Homo sapiens: one gene and its partners. The protein of the gene in region 5 purifies or fractionates together with the protein of the main gene of each other region. This does not show direct contact. Each region holds a gene or a part of one and is shown on either strand. Other genes may lie near its edges. The genes, in order: SFXN2, NFXL1, SLCO4A1, SOAT1, LRRN4CL, ARL8B and CTNNA2.

Evidence for each region.
Region 1: the proteins of LRRN4CL (region 5) and SFXN2 purify together in Homo sapiens (affinity purification with mass spectrometry; one large-scale study listed by BioGRID and IntAct). This does not show direct contact.
Region 2: the proteins of LRRN4CL (region 5) and NFXL1 purify together in Homo sapiens (affinity purification with mass spectrometry; one large-scale study listed by BioGRID and IntAct). This does not show direct contact.
Region 3: the proteins of LRRN4CL (region 5) and SLCO4A1 purify together in Homo sapiens (affinity purification with mass spectrometry; one large-scale study listed by BioGRID and IntAct). This does not show direct contact.
Region 4: the proteins of LRRN4CL (region 5) and SOAT1 purify together in Homo sapiens (affinity purification with mass spectrometry; one large-scale study listed by BioGRID and IntAct). This does not show direct contact.
Region 6: the proteins of LRRN4CL (region 5) and ARL8B purify together in Homo sapiens (affinity purification with mass spectrometry; one large-scale study listed by BioGRID and IntAct). This does not show direct contact.
Region 7: the proteins of LRRN4CL (region 5) and CTNNA2 purify together in Homo sapiens (affinity purification with mass spectrometry; one large-scale study listed by BioGRID and IntAct). This does not show direct contact.

What each region holds. Positions count from the first base shown.
Region 1 is NC_000010.11:102,720,705-102,724,752, reverse strand, and holds part of SFXN2 (sideroflexin-2), read right to left. Parts: intron 1-4,048. UniProt on the Homo sapiens protein: Mitochondrial amino-acid transporter that mediates transport of serine into mitochondria. Involved in mitochondrial iron homeostasis by regulating heme biosynthesis.
Region 2 is NC_000004.12:47,900,889-47,904,936, reverse strand, and holds part of NFXL1 (NF-X1-type zinc finger protein NFXL1), read left to right. Parts: intron 1-1,613; coding exon 1,614-1,744; intron 1,745-4,048.
Region 3 is NC_000020.11:62,652,000-62,656,047, reverse strand, and holds part of SLCO4A1 (solute carrier organic anion transporter family member 4A1), read right to left. Parts: exon of another isoform or gene 3,862-4,048; intron 1-3,861. UniProt on the Homo sapiens protein: Organic anion antiporter with apparent broad substrate specificity.
Region 4 is NC_000001.11:179,296,698-179,300,745, reverse strand, and holds part of SOAT1 (sterol O-acyltransferase 1), read right to left. Parts: intron 1-4,048.
Region 5 is NC_000011.10:62,686,183-62,690,684, reverse strand, and holds LRRN4CL (LRRN4 C-terminal-like protein precursor), read left to right. Parts: upstream 1-1,154; 5' UTR 1,155-1,258; intron 1,259-2,171; 5' UTR 2,172-2,176; coding exon 2,177-2,893; 3' UTR 2,894-4,279; downstream 4,280-4,502. Other genes in the region: BSCL2 (seipin), read left to right, coding at 1-73, 164-318.
Region 6 is NC_000003.12:5,167,086-5,171,133, reverse strand, and holds part of ARL8B (ADP-ribosylation factor-like protein 8B), read right to left. Parts: intron 632-4,048; coding exon 551-631; intron 1-550. UniProt on the Homo sapiens protein: Small GTPase which cycles between active GTP-bound and inactive GDP-bound states.
Region 7 is NC_000002.12:80,645,694-80,649,356, reverse strand, and holds the end of CTNNA2 (catenin alpha-2), read right to left. Parts: intron 1,773-3,663; coding exon 1,485-1,772; 3' UTR 577-1,484; downstream 1-576. UniProt on the Homo sapiens protein: May function as a linker between cadherin adhesion receptors and the cytoskeleton to regulate cell-cell adhesion and differentiation in the nervous system. Required for proper regulation of cortical neuronal migration and neurite growth.

The DNA of each region.
Region 1 (4,048 bases), on a different chromosome or scaffold from region 5:
AGACAAGAACAGACAAATAACATAAGCAGTGATGGAAAATCTTTTTTTTTTTGAGACGGAGTCTTGCTCTGCCACCAGGCTGGAGTACAATGGCACGATCTCGGCTCACTTCAACCTCTGCCTCCCGTGTTCAAGTGGTTCTCCTGCCTCAGCCTCCCAAGTAGCTGAGACTACAGGCGTGCACCACCATGCCCAGCTATTTTTTGTATTTTTAGTAGAGATGGGGTTTCACCATGTTAGCCAGGATGGTCTCGATCTCCTGACCTCGTGATCCGCCCACCTCGGCCTCCCAAAGTGCTGGGATTACAGGCGTGAGCCACCACGTCCAGCCGGAAACTCTTAAGAAAGAATCAAAAGGAAATGTTGGAAATCAAAAATACTGTAACAAAGATGAAGAAAGTCTTGGATGGACTCATCAGTAGACTGGACATGGCCAGGGAAAGAATCAGTGAGCCTGAACACGTGTCAGTAGAAATTGTCCAAATGCAAAAGGCCCATCCATGGCAGACTGGATAAAGAAAATGTGGTATATGTACACCATGGAATACTATGCAGCCACAAAAAAGAACGAGATCACGTCCTTTGCAGGGACATGGATGAAGATGGAGGCCATTATCCTTAGCAAACTAATGCAGGAACAGAAAACCAAATATCACATTTATAAGTAAGAAAACCAAATATCTCACTTAAAAGTGGGAGCTAAATGATAAGAACACATGGACACAAAAACGGGAGCAACAGACCCCACTGGGGCTCACTTGAGGGTGAAGGGTGGGAGGAGGGAGAGGATCAGAAAAAATAACTAATGGGTACTAAACTTAGTAGCTGGGTGATGAAACAATCTGTACAACCCCAGTGACACAAGTTTACCTATGTAACAAACCTGCACGTGTACCCCTGAATCTAAAGTAAAAGTTAAAACAAAAAAAAGAAACAAATAATATTAATGCAATTATACTAATAGAAGGGCTTGGACTCAGATCCTCCATACACAAATTCTGTCTCTCATTGAGAAACACTGAGTCTGTGGTGGTAGGGATGGTGTGGGAATGTTGGTCTTCCTAGATCATTGGAATTACTATTTGGGGATGCATACCATCTGATTCTGTTAGTCGTTACCCATTTCCACCTATCCCATATCTTACAGAAGAATCATCTCAAGTACTAACTGCTTTATATCCCTTAAAACATTTCTAGTTGGGGCCAGGCGCAGTGGCTCACACCTGTAATCCCAACACTTTGGGAGGCCGAGGCGGTTGGATCACCTGAGGTCGGGAGTTTGAGACCAGCCTGACCAAGACGGTGAAACCCCATCTCTACTAAAAATACAAAAATTAGCCGGGCGCAGTGGCAGGTGCCCGTTATCTCAGCAATTCGGGAGGCTGAGGCAGGAGAATCGCTTGTACCTGGGCAGCAGAGGTTGCAGTGAGCCGAGATCACGCCACTGCACTCAAGCCTGGGTGACAGAGTGAGACTCTGTCAAAAAAAAAAAACAAAACTTTCTAGTCGGCCAGGCATGGTAGCTCACATCTGTAATCTCAGCACTTTGGAGGCCAAGGCCGGTGGACCACCTGAGGTCAAAAGTTTGAGACCAGCCTGGCCAACATGGTGAAACCTCATTTTGTATTTTTTTTTCTACCAAAAAATAGAAAAATTAGCCAGGTGTGGTGGTGCACACCTGCAGTCCCAGCTACTGGGGAGGCTGATGTGGGAGGAATGCTTGAGCCCAGGAGGCGGAGGCTGCAGTGAGCCAAGATCAAGCCACTGCACTCCAGCCTGGGTGACAGAGTAAGACCCTGTCTCAAAAAAAAAAAAAAAAAAAAAAAAGGACTTTCTTGGACAAACAAAACAGGAAATTTGTCACTGGCAGACCTGACTTACAAGATGTTAAAAGAAGTTCTTCTGGTCAGGTGGGATGGTTCACACCTATAATCCCAGCACTTTGGCAGGCCAAGGCAGGAGCATCGCTTGAGCCCAGGAGTTTGAGACCAGTCTGGGCAACAGAGTGAGACCCTGTCTCTATAAAAATTAAAAAAGAAAAAAACATAGCCAGGCGTGGTTGCATGTGCCTGTGGTCCCAGCTACTTGGGAGGCTGAGGTGCGGGGACTGCTTGAGTCTGGGAGGCTAAGGCTAAGCCTGCAGTGAACTGTGATCGTGCCACTGCACTCCAGCCTGCACGACAGAGTGAGACCCTGTCTGGGAAAAAACACTAACAAACAAACAAATAAAAATCTTTATTTCTCTTATTCTGAACTGTTAACAGTTAACAAACAGATACGTTTGTTTAAAACAATAGTAGCAACAATGTATTTGGTGATTACAGTTTATGGATCAGAGAAATCCATGACAGCAGTAATATCAAGGACAGGAGGGGAGAATTGGGAGGACTCCATTCTAAGGTACTTGCACACTCCATGCAGTGGTATAGTGTTATTTGAAAGTGGATTTGGATTAGTCATAAATGTACATTGCAGACTCCTGGGCAACCACTAAAAAGGTTTTCAAAAGAAGTATAATTGATATGCTAAGAGAGGAGAGAAAATGGAGTCATACAAAAAAAGCTGACGCTTTTAAATGTTTGCCTGAAAGCTTCAGGGAGTCATTGAAAGACTTTAAGAAGAAGAGTGACAAGATCAGATATGTAGTTTACTAAGAACAAACTGGGTAGTCATGAGAATAAACAGGATGTGGATGGACCTCACGGGATGCAGGGAGACCAGCTGGACGAGAACCCCAGTAATCCAGGCAAGAAGAGGTAGGGCTCAAATGAACCCACGTGCACTCAGAGGAGAGACCAACAGGAGAGAATCTTTCAAAGAAGCGGAATGTTAAGGTCTGCTAAGCAATAGGTATAAGAGGAACATTTTATCAGTCAAGGTTCAACCAGAGAAGCAGAATCAGTAGATTACAGACAGACAGACAGGTAGATACCAAAACATAACATGGGGCAACATGGAGTTCCTCTAACTCCTGAGCTCAAGCAATCTGCCTGCCTTGGCCTCCCAAAGTGCCAGGATTACAGGTGTGTGCCACTGCACCTGGCTATGACACACACATATACATATTTTATATATTTCTAAAATATATTTGTATACTATAATATATATTTTCTAAATATATAAATTATATAACTATATAAATATATAATTTTTTAAATTTATAGATATAGCAACATATATTTATAATATATAAATTTATATATACATTTATTTATATAGACATGAATTACGTTTAAATATAACATATAAAAATAATATATAAACATAAATAATTCATATAGCTATATAAAATCATATATAAATATATAACTTTATATGTTATAAATATATGTTGATCTATCTATATAGATTTTATAATTTTTTCTTCTTTTTTTAGGCAGGGTCTCAGCTGGTTGCCCAGGGTAGAGTGGAGTGGTGCAATCATAGCTCACTGTAATCTCAAACTCCTGGGCTCAAGGAATCCTCCCATCTCATCCTCCCTAAGTGCTGGGATTACAGGCATGCACCACTCCTGGCCTAAATATATATAATGCTGACGTAATATAATATTGATAAAATATAGAAATTGATTTATCACAAGGAATTAGCGAATTGGCTCACATAACTGTGGCTGTTGGCTAGGCAATCCTGAAGTCAGCAGGGCAGGCGGCCAGCAACAGACCATCCCAGGGGAGAGGGAGCAACGCGGGTAATGGCTCAGAGTCCAGAACCTCAGAGGGGGTTCAGGGGTGTTCTAGCCCTCCTTTAAAGGGCTTCCACCTGATTAGGTCAGGCCACCCAGGATAATCTCCCTTTTGATTAACTTAAAGCCAAACAATTGAGGAATTTAATTAGGTCTGCAAAATCCCCTCACAGCAGCACCTAGATTACTGTTTGTCTGAAGAGCTGGAAGATGGTGTGTGTGTGCTCCTGGGTAGCCACTATAACTGGAATATACCAGAGAGGGAATCCCGGGAGTCTTGCTTAGCTTAGCCAAGTTGACACATGACAAATATCCAGAGTGATACCTAGGGTTTCTGACTTGGGCGATAGGTGCTAACAGGGAGAG
Region 2 (4,048 bases), on a different chromosome or scaffold from region 5:
TGTTAAATGTACTATATTTTATTACTTTTGGAAAAAGATACGGTCCCTATCTTCAAGAAAGTAGAACTTGGCAGTAACACTTATGGCTTAATTAGTTAGCGTATCCTGTGTTAAAGGCATTTTGGGAAGTGGTGAGGGTCAGTCGGGAGAGAGATTCAGACAAAACTCATGTCCTTGGAGGAGATATGGCGTAGTGATAAAGATATATATGTGTAAATTTAAAAGGGCATTAATGAAGCAATTAAGAAGTGATTACTGAATGTGAAAGACTCAACATTTAGACCTTAGATTAATTCACTGCTATTATAGCAGCATTGCCTAGAGAAAGCAAATCAAGTCAGATGAAATAGTTTGGTCATGTAGAGTGAATCAGAAATTTAACATGCTCTGGTTGGGTAGAAGAGTATAGCAGATACAGATGCCTTTTGTGCCTAGAGTCACATCTAGTTGGTTTACTCTGATTTCAGCTGCAGGGAATGCATAGTCTCTGCATGCAGATAGAAACCCACTTTAAACATTTGCTGTGTGTGTGCGTTTTTTCCGCCTCTCAATTTTGTTCTTGGAAATTGACTTAGCTAGTACATGGGTATAGTGCAGAAGCACTGGGGAGTTAAAGCCCCTTGCAGCAACATTGCACCACAGGGAGTTGGTAGGTGAATGCCCCAACCTCCTTTCCATTAGCGAGTGGGGCTGGGCAGTCCAAGGCGTGTTTTACATGGTTTTACAGAGGGTCCCCTGGAGGATTGAGCTTCTGTGGCCCTTAGTGGTAATCAGCTCAACCATATGCCATTCATTGGTTATTTCTTTTTCCCTGTCTAGTCCCCTTACTCCTGCATCCAAGTTCTTAGATACCGCTTTGGGGGTAACCCAAACTAAGAAGTCGGCTGTTTAATGCTGTTGTTAGCTCATGCGATATGCTACATGTCTGATTTTATCAAACAGTTGTAAAATGTTATAAGGAAAGGGGAACTGATTTTTATCAGTTTTATCAAAGTGTTTGGCAGGTTTTAAAAATTAATTTAGTATTATTTCTTAAGCTTTTAAATTATGTATATTCTTGTTTTTTGATTACCTAATTTTTAGAATTTAGCATTAGTTAGGTGTTAGACTAATAGGTTTTATATAACAAAAGGGCTGTGTAGAGATATATGTACATATTTATGTTTAAAGATTCTTTTGTAGTGTTATTTATACTTGGAAATAATCATCCAACAAGAAATTTAAGTACGTAAGTCTACATGGTGTAATGTATAGCTATAAATATGCTTATAGAAAAGACTATAAAGTTACATTTCAGTTATTATAGTATGACCTCATTTTTTAAAAGTATGAAAAAAATATATATATATAAATTTGGAGATTGTCCAGAATGTTAGCAGTAATTATTTCTAGCTGAATGAATCTGTTTGACTAATAATAATTTTCTTCGAAGTATCCTACATTTAAATGCATTTCCCATGAAACAGTTCTTCTGTTATACTGGAAGGAAAGACCTTTTTTCTTTAATCCTTAGGTAGCTCTTGAAAATAGTTTAGTGTGATACTCATTTTAAATTATTTTACAATTAACAAAGAAAAATTAACATATATTAACTTCTGATACATTTGTCTTAGGTTTGGAGCTGTTCGGGATGTTTCTGTATATTTCACATGCCCTGTATCCAGAAGTGGGCTAAAGACAGCCAGTTTCTTGTATCTTCTGTGACTGATGATGATTTTGGAAAGAAAGATTGTCCCTGGCCTTGGTAACTTTTTCTAATTAGTTGGATTATTATTATTATTTTCAGATGGAGTTTTGCTCTTGTCACGCAGGCTGGAGTGCAGTGGCGATCTTGGCTCACTGCAACCTCCACCTCCTGGGTTCAAGAGATTCTCCTGTCTCAGCCTCCTGAGTAGCTGGGATTATAGGCACCTGTCACTATGCCTGGCTAATTTTTTGTATTTTTAGTAGACACAGGGTTTCACCATGTCTGCCAGGCTGGTCTTGAACTCCTGACCTCAGGTGACCCACCCCAAAAAATCCCAAAGTGCCAACTAGGCTGGCACGCCACCACGCCTGGCCTAATTGGATTATTAAATTGTAGAATAAATGAAGATTGTAGATTCTAAGTTGCTTTATTGGTGGTTTCAATATCCATGTTGGGCTTTTAATTAGTCATTTGGTGTGTGAAGATGTGGAATCTTGATAAAGTCTTGTTTTTTTCAATTTGAATTTCTATAACTACTAGTTCCTTTTGATAACTAATAAATCATCCAGACTTAATTTTTCCTGTGCAAAACAATTCCTTAATTATCCTTTGAAAGGACTTTCAATTTTCTTTAGGACTGAGAATCATTCATAATTGTGATCTTCTTGTCCAGAATTCTATGAGTATGCATTATTATTACATTGTACAAGACTATCATTTAATGTATTTTGATTATAAGATTCCCAGTTTTATCCTCCCAAATCTCAAAACTGCAGGTGTATATTATACAATATCATTTTTTTACATTTATTAGTTTTGCTTATTATTGATGATTATTTGATCTGGAGAACTTTTGTTATATTTCCAGAAAGAGTTGGAGAGTAGAATTTTATATCTCTGCTAAGTAAAGACAATAAGAAATTTATTCATATTGGCTGCCCAGAGAGGTAGATTGACTGTCAAAGTAATGAAGCATAAGCTTCATGGGCTCTGTGTGGTCACATTTTGTAACTTTAGTAACTAATTTTATGTTTAAATTTTTTTTTTATTTTAATTTTAATTTTTTTTGAGACAGAGTTTTGCTGTATTGCCCAGGCTGGAGTGCAGTGGTGCGCTCTTGGCTCGCTGTAGCCACTGCTTGTCGGGTTCAAGCGATTCTCCCGTCTCAGCCTCCAGAGTAGGTGGGATTACAGGTGCCTGCCACCATGCCTGGCTAAGTTTTGTATTTTTAGTAGAGATGGGGTTTCACCATGTTGGCCAGGCTGGTCTTGAACTTCTGGCCTCAAGTGATCCACCCACCTTGGCCCCTCAAAGTGCTGAGATTACAGGCATGAGCCACTGCGTCTGGCCAGTGGTGTAGTTTTTAAAAACATTTAGATGTGCTAGTTACTTTTAGAAGAGTATGTAAAAATAATTCTCAGCAATCTGTGAGAGATTTTATTCTCCTGTTACCAGTGGGGATATTGAAGTTAATTGAAGGGAAATGACTTCTGACTCCTCACTCTTAAGTAGTGGAGCCAAAATTTGAAACCTAGGATTTCTTACTTTTAAATTCAGTGCTTTTTCTATTCTTCCACCTGAGTTATCTCTTATGACCTGGCTTTTAGAAATATTATTTTTCTTTTCATTGAATACACACTTTTTGGAAACTGTTTAACATTTCAAAGTATATTTGTTTTGCTCCTGCATATTATTTACTGGTGGTGGAGGAATTTTAGTGTCTAATAGGTACGGAATTAAGCCAGGTTTTAGTTTAGAGATTTAAACCTTATGTATATATTTTTTTACCCTCGCTCTTCTCACTTCTGTTTTAAGTAGTCGTTTTGCCACAGAGGAGGAAAGGATCAGTTAAAAAAAATGTACTGTTAACTTCTAATTTAAAAGGAACAACAGTTTAATCAGCTGTGCCATATACTTTGCATTCCATATTTCATATTTTTTTAAGAAAATAAATGACCATTCTGGTTAAGAACCCATTTTGTTTAATCCTCATCAAGATGGAGCTAGAACTTGGTAAAATGTTAATAATTTTAAGTTATTTTATGGAAATAAAAAATTTAAAATATAGGTTTCTACTAAGATACTGCTTTTTAATGAAGAAGATCTAGCATAATTACATTTCATTGTTGGCATCCCATTATTTAAAATAAAACTCATGCGTTTGCACATATTACCCTCACTGGGCCAGTTCAGTTTCAATGCTGATGGGCAGTGTTAAGGTATGTTGAGTTGCCTATTAGTCATCCATACCCACGCTTATTAAAAATACATATCCCCCTCCACACTAGCTTTTTCTTTTAATAAAAAAAAATTGAACTCTTCCAACAAAGCGCCAGTTACTTATTCCACAGACAGATGAAC
Region 3 (4,048 bases), on a different chromosome or scaffold from region 5:
GGGCAAGGCCTACTGAGATGGGGCCACGCGGTGGAGAGTGGAGCTGAGACGCAGAGGCCGAGTCAGACACTGGGGTCCCAGGTCACCCCGCCCTGGCCCCGCTCGCTGTGTCAGCCACGTCCCCTGCCATTTGCAGCCAAGTGGCCCTGATGGACTCCACCTTGGTCCTGGAGCCTGACCTTGTTCTTCCTTAAGTTCACACCCGGCAGCTCTCTGCACCCTTTGGCGTGAGGAAGGAGCTCCTCTCCGTGCAGAGTTTGGGAGGTGCAGGAATGAGCTGGAAGCAGCCTCCTGGGCCACGTGAGCCCCCAGCACCGGAAACACCCCCGGCCGCCAAGCTCCGGCCGCTGCTGGGTCAGCCTGTGGCTAACAGGAGTTGCAGTCGGCAGCCATGTAGACCAGTTACCAGGAGAACGTGCCCACGTGCCACCTTCCTTCTGAACCCTGCGCTGCCCCTGCCCCACTGCCCTCACCAGCCCTGTTCCCCACCATCCCGAGGCTCCACAGGGCACCGCCTCACTCCCCACACCAATTCCTGGAGCAACAGCTCCCCCCTACTGCCCAAGGCCTTCTGGGGAACCCAGGTGGCTGTAGCCTCTCTGCATCTTAAGGGCTTTCCCCGTCAGAAATAAACCGGCGAATAAACAGGGCTGCTATGATGCGGAACACCTGTGCCGCCCCCGCCCTGGGAGGGTCCTTCCCGGGGCTGCTGTGATACAGAACACCTGTGCCGCCCCCACCCTGGGAGGGTCCTTCCCGGGGCTGCTGTGATACAGAACACCTGTGCCGCCCCCACCCTGGGAGGGTCCTTCCCGGGGCTGCTGTGATACAGAACACCTGTGCCGCCCCCACCCTGGGAGGGTCTTTCTCGCAGACCTCAAGGTGCTTGCCATCTGGGGCACCTCCTGTTATGGCTGAATTGTGACCCCTAAAAGAAGCTGTCTTGGAGCCTTGACCCCAATACCTCCGAATATGACAGTTTTTGAAACTCAGGCCTTTAAAGAGGTGACTAAGGTTAAACAGGGACATTGGGTGGGCCCTGATCCAATCTGACCGGTGTCCATATTATAAAAAGGGAATGTGGATGTGCAGACCATTCCCCTGCCCGGGAGGGAGGCCGGAAGTAGCTCCTTCCCTCACAGCCTCCGAGGGGGGCCGGCCTTGCAGACACCATGATCCCTGATTTCTGGTCCTCAGCAGTAAGAGAGGGCCCGTTTCTGTTGTCTAAGTCCACAGTCTGGGGTCTTTTGTCTTCACTGTGGAGCTAAGGTGGGGTGGGCGGTGGCGTGTCCATATTGGGCCACATTGTATCACATTCAACAGGGACCCCGGCGCTTCTGGAAGCTTATTCAGCCCACGAAACATCACAACCTGGGAGGCTCCAAAACACAAAGCGTGAGAAATGCTGCCCACTGACATCAGGCTGAGGCCGGGGCCACATCAGCCATGCTCAGGGCTCTGCAGAGTCCGAAGCCCTAAGTATCCGGCCTTGGGGTCTCCTTCCAGCCACAGCCGGCGACGCGCAGAGATGCACGGAGATGCAGGGACAGCAGGCAGTCCCGTGGGGACCTGGGCTGGGTGATACCCCAGGATCCTCCTGGCAGCTCCTCACAGAGTCTGCTCACTGGGCCTGCGCTGGGGCTGGGGTGGGCGGACCGGTGCCCCCCGTGTTCCCCGGGCAGTCACGTTCACCTGGGACCTGAGCGCATGACCTTATTTGGAAAAAGCGTCTTTGCAGATGTGACAAGTGATCTGAGAAGAGATCATCCTGGATTAGGGTGGGCCCTAAACCCGGTGACAGGTGCATTTTTAGAGGAGAAGATGACACAGAGAAGGCCACCTGCAGACAGAGACAGAGACGGGCGTGGCGCTCTCAGGACCACCTGGAGCCCCGGGAGCCACTGGGGGCAGGAAGGACCCTCCTCAGAGCCCCAGGGGGAGCACAGCCTGTGTGGACTTTGGGTTCCTGGCCTCCGGAGCTGGTGGGAATAAACTATTTTTTTTTATTATTATACTTTAAGTTCTAGGGTACATGTGCACAACATGCAGGTTTGTTACATATGTATACATGTGCCATGTTGGTGTGCTGCACCCATTAACTCATCATTTACATTAGGTTTATCTCCTAATGCTATCCCTCCCCCCTCCCCCCACCCCATGGCAGGCCCCGGGGTGTGATGTTCCCTGCCCTGTGTCCAAGCGTTCTCATTGTTCAATTTCCACCTATGAGTGAGAACATGCAGTGTTTGGCTGGGAATAAACTATTTTTTAAGCCCTTTGGTGTGTGGTCATTTCTTACAGCAGCCCCCACGGAGGCAAACAGGTGTCACATATGCCCCCGAATTTGGGAGATGACAGAGGCCTGAGGAGGGCCCAGAGAGATGACCTTGGGGTTGAGGCAGAGTTAGAGCTTAACAGACACACTAACTCTAAGGTCAGCGTGGCGGGTGGGAGCGGAGGCGCAGCCGGTGATCCGCCATGGGGCTGCGAGGGGACACAGGGGCCTCAGTGAGAACCAGCCCCGGGACAGGCCTATGCTGACAGACACTACAGCATTTGGGGATGACAAATTGCTGGCTTTTTTTGTTTTGTTTTGTTTTTTAATAAAGGGGCAACTTCATCTGTGAAGGCAGATAAACCGGGCCCAGCATGGTCAGGCCGGGAGCAGGCCATGGGATCTCCCCCAGGTCCAGGCAAGGCTTGTTTTACGTCTGGAGAGATCTGGCGGTACCAGCACCCCTTCCCCAAGGCCACAGGGATCTCAGGATTGAGCCCCCAAAGCTGGGCTCTGGGTCCTCCCGCCACGTCCTCTGCCGAGGCGCGGTCCCCACAGGGCTCCTCTGTGGAATCGGAGGTCTCGCCCTCTCAGCGAATGGATGCCTCAGCCCCAGGCTCCTTGGGACGAAGGCGGGCAGCTGCTGTGAAGAATCCCGCTGGGTGGCAGGGTGCTAACACCCGCTGTGCACACTGAGCACCAGCTGTGTACCAGGCACCGTCCCAGGCCTCACAGTAGGGGAAGAAGGCCCAGGGGGGTCAGTCATTTGCTCGAGGCCACACAGCCCGCCGGTGGCAATGAGGATGCAGCCCCCGCAGTCTGGCCCCAGAGCCAAGCGTCTGCGTCACAGCTGCCTTCTGACACCTACTGAAAGAGCCGTGCACGCTCGTGTGGCACTCACGTGCAGCCGCTGTTGACCTTGGACACTGCCGGGAGGCTGTTTGAGGCCGTATTTGGAGGCCTCGGACAGCAGAGATTCCACAGCATTCATGCCTGGGGCCTGCTCCCTGGGTGCCCGCGGCCACACCCGGGGGTTTATTTACAATGCCAACACCTATCCACGAGCTGGCAGGCCAGGCTGGTTTGGGACCTGCTGCGTCAGAAAGGGAGTGTGCGTGGAAGGAGAGACATTCATATTGTAAGAGCAATGCTCCACGCCTCCCCAAGGGGCAGAGAGCCACCCACGGCCACCCACGAGCCACAGGCTTTCTACTGAAGCGAGCTGTCACAAGGATGACGTCCCAGGAGCATGTGTAACACAAGAACTCGAATGCCAGGAGTCAGCGGAAAAGCCGGAGGAGCAAGAGCCCCGGGGCGGGACTGACGAGGAGGCGCAAGGGCTCCACCGGCCGCCGGCCGCCGAAACAGAAAGCAACCTCAGAGGCCCGGAGGAGGACAGGCCAGGCTCAGAGCCACGCAGACTCCCCAGGCAGCCTGTGGGTGTGTTTCCCTCGCATTGTTTTTCTTAGTGCAGGAACACAGAGCCAAGAACTACCCTGAGGACTGCCTGGAGGTCAAGGTCCACCCACACACACAAACACGTGCACACGCACACACATAAATAGCAGAAACTTGACCTCATTTCCGGGCTGGGCCAGAACATGAAGGGAAGGAGCCTCAACAGGGCCAAGGAACAGCCTGACGCAGGCGGGAGAGTGCTCAGAGGTTCCGCCTAGCTGCACGTGCTGGCACGGGGAGGGGGGCCGAGCGGGGGTGGGGGGTGTGGGGCGGGGCAGGGTGGGGGAGGCGGGGGCAGGGGGAGTGGGTCGGATT
Region 4 (4,048 bases), on a different chromosome or scaffold from region 5:
GCAAGAAGAAAACAACTGTGAAATACTCATTACATTATTTTAAAGCTATATATATTTAAATTCTGAGACTACAGTTTTTCTTAATTTTTGTACTAAAATATCCTTTTCTGTATAAAAGGATGAAATATAGTACATGGTGGGTTTGGTTGTTTTTCAACTATCACAGCTTGGCAAAGTAAAAATCTGACAAATCTAGATCGGCTTTCTTCTAATTATTTCTGAAATCAAACAAATGAAACAATTGTGGAACAGCAGATGAATATATCAAGTAGAAATGTTATGATATCATAAGATCTAATTAAGAGGAACTTAAGGGAAAAGTCAGGGCTAATAAATCACAAGACGATGCCCAACTTACAATGGTCCAATTCTGTGTAAAAGTGACAGAGGAAGCCACAAGAGCATCTATCTCTTCATCAGAAATGATGAGAGAAGTAAGAACTGAAAACTAAACTTTGAGGGACAGCCTCAAAGTAGAGGAAATCAGGGAAGAAAAAGAAAGACACAAAAGGAACCAAGATGTTTCAGTAAGAGAGGAATTTTACAAGGAATAATGGGAATTTTTTTTTTTCTGGCCAGATGAACAGAGACTTTTTTTTTCTGGCCAGATGATGGGGAATTTAAAGTAGATACTCTTTTAAAGAGCATATAGCAAAAGTTTAAAGCATAAAAGACAGCAAAATGAAGCCGGGTGCGGTGGCTCATGCCTGTAATCCCAGCACTTTGGGAGGCTGAGGTGGGCAGATCATGAAGTCAGGAGATCAAGACCATCCTGGCTAATACAGTGAAACCCCATCTCTACGAAAAATACAAAAAAAAAAAAAATTAGCTGGGCATGGGGGCAGGCGCCTGTAGTCCCAGCTACTCGGGAGGCTGAGGCAGGAGAATGGCATGAACCCAGGAGGCGGAGCTTGCAGTGAGCTGAGATCACACCACTGTACTCCAGCCTGGGCAACAGAGCAAGACTCCGTCTCAAAAAAAAAAAAAAAAAAAAAAAAAAGATAGCAAAATGATTAAAAAATAAATGCCAGATTAAAGTTTATTACCCAAGCCATATGAAACAGTATAGCACAATGCAATATTTCTCAAAGTAGAATAATAACAGCTGATTTTTTTTAGTGCTTATGTGTTTTACATGTATTATTTTCATCTCAACAGAATCAAGACAGATACTATTGTTATTTTCCAAATATTCTTTGGCCACCATAGTGTCCCATATACTCTTCCCTGTCTATAGAAAGCTATTTCTCCTCTGCCCTTTTTTTATGTAGCTAACTCCTACTCAAGCCTTCAAAGAATCACAGCTACAGCAGTAATAGAATTAATACCAACAGTTCTGATTTAATGAGCACCTATTATGTACCTCTAGGCACTGTGCTGCTAAACTTTTTACATTACATTTAATCTTTACAACCTTAGATAAGTATTATCCTCATTTTACAGATGAGTTTAGGGAAGTGATTTAACTTGTCCCAAATCAAATAATTCTCCAACAGCAGAACTAGAATTCAAAACAAAGACTATCAGATTCTACAACCTGCCCTCTAATCGCTAAACCGCCTCCAACTCACCCTCTGAAGTTTCCTTTACCACCACCTCTCATCTCATCCTCTCTGCGGTCCCACTACACTGAGCATCCTGTCACATGTTACATTGTCCTATAATCAGAGAGCAATACTCTCTGTCTCTTACATTAGGCTTAAGTTCTCAAAGATAGGGATTACATAGTATTTTCTGTAAGACTCCCCCAAATCTAGTGTGGAGTACCTGGAGTACAACAGGCAGGCATTAAGAAAGAAAGCAAATGTATCAGTTAATATGTAACCAATTATTCTAAGCACAAGACAGTCCCCAACTTATGATGGTTCAATTTAAAATTTTTCAACTTTATGATGGTGCAAAAGCAACATGCATTCTGTGGAAATCATATTTTGAGTACTCATACAACTATTCTGTTTTTCACTTTCAGTATAGTATTCAATAAATTACATGAGATAATGAACACTTTATTGTAAAATAGTCTGTGTTCAATAATTTTGCCCAACTGTAGGCTAATATTAAGTGTTTGGAGCATATTTAAGGTACACTAGGCTAAAACTACCCAAAAAACATTTAGCCCGGCGTGGTGGCAAGCACCTGTAATCCCATCTACTCAGGAGGCTGAGGCAGGAAAATCACTTGAACCCAGGAGGCGAAGGTTGCAGTGAGCACAGGTCGCACCTCTGCACTCCAGCCCAGACAACAGAGTGAAACCCTGTCTCCAAAAGAAGAAATATAAAAAGGGAGTCCTTGGTAATAAGATGGTTCCTCAACCATCAAGCTACTCTAGAGGAAACCTTACATCAAAAGCTAAAACAGGGCCGGGCATGGTGGAATACATCTGTAATCCCAGCACTTTGGGAGGCCGAGGTGGGCAGATCACCAGGTCAGGAGATCGAGACCATCCTGGCTAGCCTAGCACGGTGAAACCTCGTCTCTACTAAAAATACAAAAAATTAGCCAGGTGTGGTGGCAGGCACCTGTAGTCCCAGCTACTCAGGAGGCTGAGGCAGAAGAATCGCTTGAACCCGGAGGTGGAGGTTGCAGTGAACCTCAATCACACCATTGCACTCAAGTTAGATCAAGTCACTTCACAACTTAAACCCCTTCAAACATCCTAAGTCCTTACCATGATCTAGTAACTTCTGCATTGCCTGCCACTCACCACCACCCCCTTAAACACCATCAATCTTTTTTTTTTTTTGAGACAGAGTTTCACTCTTGTTGGTCAGACTGGAGTGCAATGGCACGATCTCAGCTCACCGCAACCTCCGCCTCCTGGATTCAAGCGATTCTCCTGCCTCAGCCTCTGGAGCAGCTGGGGTTACAGGCCACCACACCCAGCTAATTTTGTATTTTTAGTAGAGATGGGGTGTCGAACTCCCAACCTCAGGTGATCCGCCTGCCTCGGCCTCCCAAAGTGCTGGGATTACAGGTGTGAGCCACCGCGCCCGGCATTTTTTTTTTTTTTTTGAGACGGAGTCATGCCATGTCGCCCAGGTTGAAGTGCAGTGGCATGATCTTGGCTGTCTCATTTTCTCTACTCATTACTTTGGCCTTCCACTGTTTCTTAAACAAGCGCACCGGCTCACGCCTGTAATCCCAGCACTTTGGGAGGCTGAGGCGGGTGGATCACAAGGTCAGGAATTCTAGACTGGCCTGGCCAAGATGATGAAACCCCGTCTCTACTAAAAATACAAAAAATTAGCCAGGGGTGATGGCAGGTGCCTGTAATCCCAGCTACTCGGGAGGCCGAAGCAGAGAATTGCTTGAACCCAGGAGGCGGAGGTTGCAGTGAGCCGAGATCGCGCCACTGCACTCCAGCCTGGGTGACAGAGCTGGACTCCGTCTCAAAAAAGAAAAGAAAAGGACAGGACATGGGATATTTCACAATTGGGGGACATTAATAGCTATGATTTGATTACATGCACAGTTTTAGGAGGAAGGACAAATAAATATATTGGAGTACACCGCCAGTAAGTTGAGGAAGTGAAAACAGTGATCATAAGACTAGTCTCTCAAGAGGTCTAGCAGTGAAGGAATCTCTAGCGTTTAGGAAGCAGGTAACAAAGTGCTGAGTGCAGTAGGTGTAGCACATATCTCATTTAACATGTCCATTTTTAAAGATGCAGGAGATTCAGAAATGCTAACAAACTTGTTCAAAGTCACAGGTAACATAAAGCTATTCCCCCCCAGGTAACAAAGCTAAGTAGACAGCTATTTATACAACACACTGATTGAAAAAGAATTTCTTAAGAATCTAATCTGTGCACGCAATTACATAATGTTCAGTGTGATAAGCATCTAACTTATCTTAAGAAAGCAAAACAAAAAGAAATGATTTGAGAAACAAATGAACTTGGAAAGACATGTCAACTTTAGCCTGCCTCCGTGTTCCCATTAATACAGCTTTCAAAAGAGCCCATAAATCTGTATCACAAATACTGAGTGCCTACTCCAGGTAAAGAACTTTGCCACATCACCCTTAGATTCAGTGGTGGAAAGGGGA
Region 5 (4,502 bases):
CTGTCCGAGGAGGAGAAACCAGATCAGCAGCCCCTGAGCGGAGAAGAGGAGCTAGAGCCTGAGGCCAGTGATGGTGAGGGGCATCCTGCAGCGTGACCTGGGTGGGGCCCCCGGTTAATCTAATATCCCATTTGAGATTTTGTTTTTCCCTTTCCTGGCCCAGGTTCAGGCTCCTGGGAAGATGCAGCTTTGCTGACGGAGGCCAACCTGCCTGCTCCTGCTCCTGCTTCTGCTTCTGCCCCTGTCCTAGAGACTCTGGGCAGCTCTGAACCTGCTGGGGGTGCTCTCCGACAGCGCCCCACCTGCTCTAGTTCCTGAAGAAAAGGGGCAGACTCCTCACATTCCAGCACTTTCCCACCTGACTCCTCTCCCCTCGTTTTTCCTTCAATAAACTATTTTGTGTCAGCTTCTTCCTTGACTCTGAAATGGGTTCAGGGCCATTTGAACACCCTGTGTCCCCCATGCATCTCTCACTTTCCGCCATTAGAGGGGAGGTCTTCTTGTCCAGGGGAAGGCCTCCAGACCTGGGCTATTTTAAGCACAGATGTTTCCATTCATAAGCCTAGGAAGTCCAAGGAGGGAGAAGCTATCCTGGCCCCTAGCAAGCTTTCCCACTCCCTGCATGTGACTTTCATCTCCCCCAGAGGAGGGGGATGGTGTAGGGCAGGTCTGCAGAGCTGGGAGACATCATTCTGGCCCCCTCTACACCCCTCCCTTCCTCCCTTCCTCCCTTTCTCTGTCCATTGGGAGGCAGAAGACAGGAAATGACTGCCATGGATGTGGTAGGATTTTTACCAAAACAGCATTTTGCGGCTCAGGCCCGTGCTGTTCGCAGCTGTTTTCCTCTAATATCAGCCAGGTGGCCGCCTTCTATGTTCCCCTCCCCATCCCGTTGTATGACTTCAGCCTTCGGATTCTAAGCTCCTGGCTGCTTTCCACATTCCACTCCCCTTCCAGAACCCAGGCATCCTGGGCTCCAGCTGAAACCATTGCATGTGGCTTTCCCCATCCCTGGCCCCGTGACTCAGTCCCTCTGAAGGGAGCAGCCCTCTTTTTTGGCAATCACCAGGGAGGTGGGGGGAGGAGGAGGGGAGCTAGGTGGTGACATCACAGTCGAAGGTTATAAAAGCTTCCAGCCAAACGGCATTGAAGTTGAAGATACAACCTGACAGCACAGCCTGAGATCTTGGGGATCCCTCAGCCTAACACCCACAGACGTCAGCTGGTGGATTCCCGCTGCATCAAGGCCTACCCACTGGTGAGGAGCTGCTATGGGCCAGAGAGGAGGAGGGAGGCATGCAGGGGCCAGGACTCCTTGGACAGGATTTGCACAGATAGCAGGTGGGGAGGGAGGATTCCAGCGTCCCTATTTTTTTCTCTTGTTTTCAAAAAATACAGCTGTGCTTACAATATTTCTCCATTCTGTTCTCTTTTCTCAACTCTGTCTCCTTTCTGGGTTTTTGCCTGTGTCACTGACGGATACATGTTTTTGTTGAGTTGAGGTCTCACTCTTGTCACCCAGGCTGGAGTGTTGTGGGGCGATCATGGTTCACTGCAGCCTTGAACTCCTGGGCTCAAGTGATCCTCCTGAGTAGCAGGGACCACAGGCATGTGCAGTATATTTTTAATGTTTTTTAACTTTTTAATAATTTTTAAATACTTTTTAATTTTTGTAGAGATGGGGTCTCTCTGTGTTGCCCCAGCTGGTTTGGAATCCTGGCCTCAAGCAATCCTCTTGCCTTGACTTCCCCAAAGTGTTGGGATTATAGGCATCAGCCTAGGGGCCCGGCTTTGTTACTTGTTTTGCTTAGATCTTTTCTCTGGGTGGCAGCTAGTAAATATCCTACCGTTCTTCCCTGGGCTAAGTAAATCATGTCCTCCTCTTCTCTCCCTCAGCACTTTGTTTATTCATTAACTGTTTCTAATACTTAACACATGCTGATCATGCATCTGTCTCATGTGTCAGATCATGTTTTATTTTTTGTCTGAAACCAAGCACACAGCCTGGACTCAGAAGTTGGTTGACAAATGAGTGTGTCTGCCTCATTCCAACTTCTTTCCTCTTCTGATCCCCAGTTGCATTTTCCTGTCTCCAGAGATTGTGTCCAGGCAGAGGGCATGGCAGGCTTTTGGGCTGAACAGGCTTTATCTATCCACCCCTTCCCTTCCAGTCTCCATGCTGGGCTCTCCCTGCCTTCTGTGGCTCCTGGCCGTGACCTTCTTGGTTCCCAGAGCTCAGCCCTTGGCCCCTCAAGACTTTGAAGAAGAGGAGGCAGATGAGACTGAGACGGCGTGGCCGCCTTTGCCGGCTGTCCCCTGCGACTACGACCACTGCCGACACCTGCAGGTGCCCTGCAAGGAGCTACAGAGGGTCGGGCCGGCGGCCTGCCTGTGCCCAGGACTCTCCAGCCCCGCCCAGCCGCCCGACCCGCCGCGCATGGGAGAAGTGCGCATTGCGGCCGAAGAGGGCCGCGCAGTGGTCCACTGGTGTGCCCCCTTCTCCCCGGTCCTCCACTACTGGCTGCTGCTTTGGGACGGCAGCGAGGCTGCGCAGAAGGGGCCCCCGCTGAACGCTACGGTCCGCAGAGCCGAACTGAAGGGGCTGAAGCCAGGGGGCATTTATGTCGTTTGCGTAGTGGCCGCTAACGAGGCCGGGGCAAGCCGCGTGCCCCAGGCTGGAGGAGAGGGCCTCGAGGGGGCCGACATCCCTGCCTTCGGGCCTTGCAGCCGCCTTGCGGTGCCGCCCAACCCCCGCACTCTGGTCCACGCGGCCGTCGGGGTGGGCACGGCCCTGGCCCTGCTAAGCTGTGCCGCCCTGGTGTGGCACTTCTGCCTGCGCGATCGCTGGGGCTGCCCGCGCCGAGCCGCCGCCCGAGCCGCAGGGGCGCTCTGAAAGGGGCCTGGGGGCATCTCGGGCACAGACAGCCCCACCTGGGGCGCTCAGCCTGGCCCCCGGGAAAGAGGAAAACCCGCTGCCTCCAGGGAGGGCTGGACGGCGAGCTGGGAGCCAGCCCCAGGCTCCAGGGCCACGGCGGAGTCATGGTTCTCAGGACTGAGCGCTTGTTTAGGTCCGGTACTTGGCGCTTTGTTTCCTGGCTGAGGTCTGGGAAGGAATAGAAAGGGGCCCCCAATTTTTTTTTAAGCGGCCAGATAATAAATAATGTAACCTTTGCGGTTTAAGAGGATAAAATGGAGGATATTATTATGTGGGTATTTATATGACCTTTGTAACCATTTAAAAATGTAAAAACGACCTGACTTAGTAATGCGAACCTATAGTAGCAGCTACTCCAGAGGCTGAAATGGGAGGATCTCTTGAGCCCAGGAGTTGGAGTCCAGTCCAGCCAGGGCAACACAGCCAGACGCCCTTGTTTTTTATTTTGTTTTGTTTTGGTTTTTTGTTTTTTGAGGAGTTTCCCTCTGTCACACAAGCTGGAGGGCAATGGCGCCATCTCAGCTCACTGCAACGTCCACCTCCTGGGTTCAAGCGATTCTCCTGCCTCAGCATCCTAATTAGTTGGGATTACAGGCGCCCACCACCATGCCCGGCTAATTTTTGTGTTTTTTTAGTAGAGACGGGGTTTCACCATGTTGTCAGGCTGGTCTCAAACTCCTGACCTCAGGTACTCCACCCGCCTTGGTCTCTCAAAGTGCTGGGATTACAGGCATAAGCCACTGTGCCCAGGCAGACCCCCTTCTTTAAAGATGTAAAACCCGGCCGGGCGCGGTGGCTCACGCCTGTAATCCCAGCACTTTGGGAGGCTGAGGCGGGCAGATCACGAAGTCAGGAGATCGAGACCATCCTGGCTAACACGGTGAAACCCCGTCTCTACTAAAAATACAAAAATTAGCCGGGCATGGTGGTGGGTACCTGTAGTCCCAGCTACTCCGGAGGCTGAGGCAGGAGAATGGCGTGAACCCGGGAGGCGGATCTTGCAGTGAGCGGAGATTGCACCACTGCACTCCAGCCTGGGTGACAGAGCAAGACTCCCTCTCAAAAGAAAAAGAAAAAAGATGTAAAAACCATTCTTAGTTTGTGGGCCTTACAAATCAGGCCACTGGCCCATTGCTTGTAGTTAGTTGATCCATGTCATGCACCCTAAAAATGGCTCTGTCACTGTGAGTGGCTTCAGTAGGATTTTGAGAATAAGTTTATATTCTTGCTAGGTAAAACAAAACAAAAACGACAGTAATACCAAGGAATCTCCCCCCCCTTTTACCCTCCATTTGTGTTTATTGCATATCCACTATAACAACATTAAAGGACCTTTAAAAGGAAGTAATTTTTATTGTTTATGATTCCTTTCAAGTCACTGTCCACACACCCATTTTTCAGAGTAATATACATACTTTTGATTTTTTTTTTGTTTTTGAGATGGAGTCTCACTCTGTTGCCCAGGCTAGAGTGCAGTGGCACGATCTCAGCTCACTGCAATCTCCGCCTCCTGGGTTCAACTGATTTTCCTGCCTCAGCTTCCCAAGTAGCTGGGACTACAGGCGTG
Region 6 (4,048 bases), on a different chromosome or scaffold from region 5:
TGAACAGCTTCTGTAAACCACAATAATTGGGCAAAATGGACATTAAGGCTCAGGCCATAGATTTGATTTTTGAAAAACAAAATAGATTAAAAATCTATTCTTGGCCAGGCGTGGTGGCTCACGCCTGGAATCCCAGCACTTTGGGGAGGCCGTAGCAGGCAGATCATTTGAGGTTAGGAGTTGAGACGAGCCTAACCAACATGGTGAAACCCTGTCTCTACTAAAAGTACAAAAAATTAGCTGGGTGTGGTGGCACAAGCCTGTCATCTTAGCTATTTTGGAGGCTGAGGCAGGAGAATCACTTGAACCGGGAGGTAGAGGTTGCAGTGAGTGGAGATCGCGACACTGCACTCCAGCCTGGGTGAAAGAGCAAAACTCTGTTTCCAAAAAAAAAACAAAAAAACAACAACAAAAAAACCTATTCTTTTGAAACATGCACATTCATTACTGAAAAACTGCAAATTTTCAGTAAAAACACAGAAATTTAACAGAAAAATTTCTAGGGGTCTGTGCTAACAATTTAAATTGCGTACGGCAAGAAATAACTTACCTTTATTGTGACGTTACCTTTAGTTACCTTCCTCATGTTGAAGCCCACTGTGGGTATCATATCTTCACTGAATTGACCTGACTGAACAAAATAAAACATTTGAAGTTAGGCTACTCACTTATAATGACACTGCATAAACTTCTAATATCAACATTGCATTTGTAACCATTTTAGTAAATATTTTTTTACCATTGGTAACAATCTACTTTAAGAACATGTTCCTTATGGCCATAATTCTTGAAGAGATGCATTATTTTGTCCCAACAAAGATATATTCTTCCATCTAAAAAAGATATTTTTGAAACTAATGTAATTTTTTACATATTTCCTTATGCTAAAAGAATTTTATATGACAAATACATACGAAAATTTTTAAATGTGTTCACCTAGATGTACATTTCCACAAAGTAGATGAGATCAGAAATAAAACTTTCAGCATTTAAATTATTCTGACAGTAACTATTAAAATTCACTGCTAAACAGCATTTCCAAGTCTGTCTTTTAATAAGGCTTATAAAATATTTTGTCATACAGAAGTTTTTCCTTTTATGTAATCAATTTTGTTCTCTTTTTGGTTACTTATCTCAATGTCATGAGTATTGTCTGCTATGGCCTTATGCTAGCCACATACACATGTATTCCAAAATTGTCTTAAATCTTGAGCACAACGAATTCCAACTGTACAAATAACTTCCTATACAGAACTCGAATTGTGCCTCTTTTAACTGTTCAGTGGAGTTTTATTAACTTCAGAAAAAATGTTAACACAGCCATAGTCACTACTTTCACTTATATAAGACATTATAATTCTCAGGACTTTCACATATGTGATTATATGTGAAAATCTAGTCATTCTATCTAAACTAGTTATATCAAAAGTAAGCCATGATAAAAGATAAATGGCCAATGAACTCATGAAAAGACGTTCGACTCACTAATCATTAGGGAAATGCAAATCAAACCCACAAAGAGATACCACCTAACATCCAGTAGGATGGCTACTATTAAGAGGAAAAGAAAAAAAACAGAAAGCACTGGAAAGAATGCAGAGAAATAGGAACTCTTGTATACTGCTGGCAGGAAGGCAAAATGGTATAGCTGCTATGAAAAATGGTATAGCAGTTCCTGAAAAACCTAAAAATAGAATTATCATATGATCCAGCAATTCAACTTCTGAATATACACTCAAAAGAAATGAAGACATTTTGCTAAATGAAATGAGCCAGAAGTCTCACACACTCACACACACACACACACACACACACACACACACACACAAACACTGTATTTCACTTTATGAGGTACCTAAAATAGTCAAATTCATAAAGACAGAAGATATTAATTTGCTTAATGGGTATGGAGTTTCAGTTTGAAAAGATAACAAATTTCTAGAAGTGGACAGTGGTGATGGTTACACAATGTGAATGTACTTAACACTACTGAATTGCACACTTAAAAATGACTAAGATGATACTTTGTGTTTTATGTATTTTACCAAAATTTTTAAAAAACTAGTCATCATACAGGGAGGGACAATTATCATTATCATTTCATAGAACAGGTAGTAGAGTCCCAAGGTCACATGGCTAAATCGTGATTATATTTTTCTTAAATATTTTCATTGTAATTATATTTATTGTGATAGGCTTTAATCTCTGAGGAGAGATCTACGTGAGATAATGCTCATTTATTTCATATCATTAAGTGTTTTACATAATGAAGAGGCAGGAAAAATAGTAGCTAAAATTTTTAGGTACCAAACTTTACAACTAGCTTGCATGGAAAGCTTTCTAAAAGGCAATATACACTTGGCTAACTTCCCACAAACAACCTATAGAACATGATTTAATGTGTTCTCAATGTTTCTGGGTCAGTTTATCTATTGCAAAACAAGAAAACTAAATTAGATAACACTCAAGGGCCCTCCCTATTGGAGGTAAAGTTTTATGATTATGAACATCAACTACAGCACTTCATAATAAAATAATGTAGGGGGCTGCAGTATACTGGGGTACCCCCGAGCTTTCTCAGGGGTTCATTTATCTCTTTTCTTTACCTTGGCCAACCCTAACAACTTTCCTGTAACTCAGCTGCTACTGCTAACATGCAAAAACCGAAAATTAGCTAATCAAGTCCTTGAGTTTTTACTCCAAAATTCTTGAGTAGAGCAAGATATTCAATAAATATTTGTTGAACAAACTAAGAGTTATTAGGGCCAGGCATAGTGGCTCAAGCTTGTAATTCCAGCACTTTGGGAGGCTGAGACAGGCAGGTTGCTGCGGCCCAGGAGTTCAAGACTAGCCTGGGTGACACGGCAAAACCTTCTCTCTACAAATACAAAAATTAGCCAGGCATGGTTATATGCACCTGTAGTCCCAGCTACTAGGGAGGCTGAGGTGGGAGGATTGCTTGAGCCTGGGAGGTGGAGGTTGAGATCTTAAGAACGATATGACTTTAAGACAAGATTGTGCCACTGTACTCCAGCCTAGACAATAGAGTGAGAGCATGTCTCAAAAAAAACATAGGCCATGAAGGAGGAAAATGCTGGAACTCTTCTGCCAATAAAGTGCTTAACTTTGATGCATGAATTTTGTGCAATAATTACTTTATGGACCTGGAAGTATTTTCTACTTCTTTCCTAGTGTCCAATCTTAATCATCACTTTTCAAAGCTTGTGTTGAACAACTATAACCACTCAGTTGGCAACTGGGCACTAGATACCTGAGAATTTATGTCTGAGCTGTCAAGAAGCTGCTTAATTAAGACTACAGGTTTGGGAAACAGATGTTTAGAAAATACTACTTAGTAGTATATCATTCTACTTATTTTAACAAATTTAACAAACACGTAATACTAAGCACTTAACATTCATCAGCATAGTTTAATCCTTATAACAACCCAATGAAATGAGTAGCATTATCTTCATTTCTCAGATGAGAAAAACAAGGCAAAGTCAGCTTAAGTCACTTGCCTAAAGTCACATTGTTCTTAAGATCTGGATAATTATGAGTTAATCTGACTTGGGGGGGAAAGAGTAGAAAAATAAAAGTAAGTAGTCCCTCCTTATCCTTGGGGGATACGTTCCAAGAACCCCAGTGGATGCCTGACATCACAGATAGAACCTAACCCTATGTACACTATGTTTTTCCCAATACATACATACCTATGATAAAGCTTAATTTATAAATTAGGCACAGTACTCTTCTGCTTTAGAGTCATTATTATTTCAGAGGTTGATCATAGGTAACTGAAACTGGAAAGCAAAACCATGGATAAGAGGGACTACTGTATGCTTTCATGCCTGCCTTCTTAAATGCCATGATCACACGTGGCACTCGCTGTGATTCTGTGATGGCAGATGGAGCTGTCACTGTCATAATGCTTACCCTCCTATAAGCCAAAGTTGCAAGGCAGTGTACCTGGAACTTGGTTGAACAAAATAAATCTGAAGCAAAATAAGATGGTGAAAAGAAGATTATTCTCAAAGTCAGGGAATCT
Region 7 (3,663 bases), on a different chromosome or scaffold from region 5:
ATCTTGCACATAAGCTTAGGTGTTCATAACTCCCATTGTGTTATCATCACTTCTTTGCTAAGAAAGAAACATGCATATTTACTAGAAGCCTTTTGGAGACATGGTAATGTGATAACTTGTAGCAATCATTCCAATGAGAGGAGTTTGGAGAATTCAGGTGACTATTTGGGGACTTTTTCTCCATTTCTCAGTTCATAGTTGAAATACTATCACCACTTTTTAATAATGGGACAGAGGTCCTGTTTTTCCAACTTACTTAAAAGGAAAAAGTCTAAAATGAGTAAAATATTTTTAAATTAATTGGCTCTTCTATTACAAAGAAAGACTGTCATTTTCAATGCAGTATGAAAGTGAATGAAAACAAGTGGAAAAACAAACCACAAAATAAATATGTGAACTCTAAAAATGACAATTATTTGGATATCATCTATTTTATTACTAATCTCTAAAATTTTATTACTAATCTCTAAAAACCAAAACATAATGCATTTTTTTAATGAATTTTCAGGAAGATGATGCTCTAATCTTTATTAAGTACATACTTAAAAAATTAAAAAAGAAAACATACTTGAGATGTCAAGATTAAATGTGTTTATTTTGAGTTAGTTAGTGAATACAATGGTATATTAGATACCAGCACTCCAAGCTACACCTATGTATTTGCCTCTAACTTTCACACGTTGTCAGTTTCCTTCCCTCTAATATTCCACCACTGGGCCTTCTATTTCTAGCAAAATCATGGTTCAAATTAAAAAGAAAAAAAAATGAAAGCAAGATTGGTCACCGTATTGTGCTTCCAGTGCCCCCAGAAGGATTTTAATTGTCTCAAATAGATGTTTATTGTTTTCATTAAAGGGGGGAAAAAAACATGATCACTAGTAATGGCACAACTAGAAGAGGAAACAGAATGCAGATTAAAAGAAGCATTTTAGGCTGGACTAGTTAATTTCCCCTCAGTTAAAAATCGACATAATATCACGGATATAGACTTCAAGGTTAAATTGTTCAATTCATGGGCCACACACTTAAGCGTATTGGCTAGTACATTTTTGCACTGAAACAGAAGCAATACAAGTTTTATGTTCTACCATTACACTTCCAGATTTTTCACTTATGCATATACCTGCCAACCTAATGATTCTTGCATGCATTAGAGTTTGCTTTTGTAGAGTTAAGTTTATTTTCCCCATCCCTCCCACTCCCATAAATATTGCGCCAATGCGAACTCTGTGCCCAATTTTATGAGAATGTTGCAAAGGACAGCTCTGTGCCACCTTAGTACAGGAATGTCCTGTCTCCTTCCCAGGCTACAGATGGATCAGTAGTATTGATCTCATCTCATCTTACATGCAAACAGACACTGTTCCCTTAATTTCCCCATGCCAGAGGCATACGAGCTGGCAGGTATGCATACAAAAATGGAATTAAAAAGAAAAAGAAAGAAAGAAAAGAAAGAAAAAGCTTTCTTGTTAAAACCTATCGTCCTAGAAGGAATCCATTGCTTTGAATTCACTTAAAGCCTGTACAGGCGAAATGTGTTTCTTCTGAGAACCTCGTCGAACTCGTGTCTGGAATTCTTCAGGCTTTTCTCTCTTCACAAGGGGCTTCTTCTCTGGAGCCTTCATCTTCCAAGACACAACAGGTGAGTTGACAGCTGCTGTCCCATAGACCTTCTGGTATTTGGTTGAGGCCACATAGGATGCTTTCACCGTGAGGACAACAGCATTCATCAGGTTTTTAGCTGCCTGGATAAGCGATGTGGCACTGTCCAGCTAGAGTAGGAAAAGAATGAGATACATGTGGGTTAATGGAGGCCCCAAATTCACAAAATGGTGATGTACTTTCACGGTTAAAATAATGTTTTCCTTGTGCAAATAAATAGTATTGCTGAAAAGGAGCAAATTATCACAAGTTAAGGTTTTTAAAATCTCAATACAGCTAATGGCAAAGCCCTCATCTTAGCAGGTAGGAATTCCAAGGTAACAAAAGTTTTCCAAAGTAGAACATCTCATATTATTACATTAGGGTAATTAGCAATGGTGACATTTACTCAAATGTTGGACAAGCATTTGGCAGACACTAAAGAAAAAAAGTTATAAGGGGTTACCTCTCAATTTTATGGCCCAAGAAATGGAAGTATCTATCTATAGGCTATTTCTGTATCTTGAGCTCAGGGTTGGTGAGGATACAGTCATTTAGGCAGAAGAACAATCCATGGGTGTTCTTGCTTCTATGAGGTGTTAATTGAGCTTGGAGTATCAATTTAACTATTAACAGGTCCTCAGTATACCTCCTATATAAATACTGATACTTATGTCAGGATCTCATAGCATTCAGTGAGACCTTCTCATACATGCATTAATGAAATATTCAGTATTTACTATGTGCCAAATACTATTATGAGAAATTTGTATTTTCCCACTTAGCTCTTGTTAACAACTCTATAATATAGGCATTATCGTCATGCCCTTTTAGAATGAGAGAGCTGATACATGCAGAGGTCCAGTAACTAGCACAGGTTTTAGTCTTTAAAGATACTACTCATCTGTACTGTCACCTTGTTGGATAGGATGGCTTTTAAAAATGCCAAGACAAGTCACAACTTGAGAATAGGTTTAGAGGCCCATCACCAGACTTTTAGGCCAGGAATATTTTGGGTTACCTTTTTTCTGTCTTTAAGTAGTTAGTGTGGTATGTACTGTATACTAGATCATTCAATATCTTCTTCAACCTTCTTGCTTCACTGCCTGCATCACAGATGCTGGGGTTATGTCTCAATGTTATAGCCCAACCAATGGAAGTACCTATTTATCTATACACTATTTCTATATCCTGAGCTCAGGATTGGTGAGGCTCAAAAATGCATTTCCTAGACTCTCCATCAGCCAGGAGTCTACATGTGAGCTAGTGAAAGAAAAGAATTAACAGCTGAACTGCAAATATCATTCCAGCCTCAGGGATGTTTGAGCATAGTCTGATCTTTCATCAAACTTCTTGTAACATCAACTAATGAGATATATCAATTACAGTTAACTGAAGGAAGCAAAGATGTTCTTAAGTATGCTGTTCCTAGTTGGAGAGATTATTTGTTGTGTAGCCTGTAATTCATGAACTTCATGAACTGTAGCTGCATTAAGCCTTCTGGGGGCTAGGTGACTAAGAAAGTGTTTAAACTGAGAGACTGTAGATCTTATGGTTCTTCCATCTGACGTGACTGGCATTCACTTTAGCTTCGTATCATTTCTTATTAACAAAATATGTCCCACGCAGTATTGAGGTTATCAGAAGTTGTATCTAACACAACTGTGATACTGTTCCTTTGGCTGCTTTTTGTTCCATATCCCTTATTTAAGCTAAATTAATGTTGCGCTGTGTTTTTAAAAATGTCAATCAAATGAGCTCAATTTTTCCATCACCAGAAAAGCTTGTAGTCTGACCATTGGGGAAAACAATGGAAGATGTTTTATATAATTGCTTTGTGAATTAACTCAACCAAATGGATGGAGTAACCCACTTACTTGATCACTTCTATTATGCCATACAAAATGCACGTATACCAAAATCACTGCTGAACCCCATACTCTTTCGTTTATACAGCCCAAATTTCTAAAGATAGCTAAGGAAAAGCAAACTCTAGGTTATTCATGTTAACAGGAGAGAAGC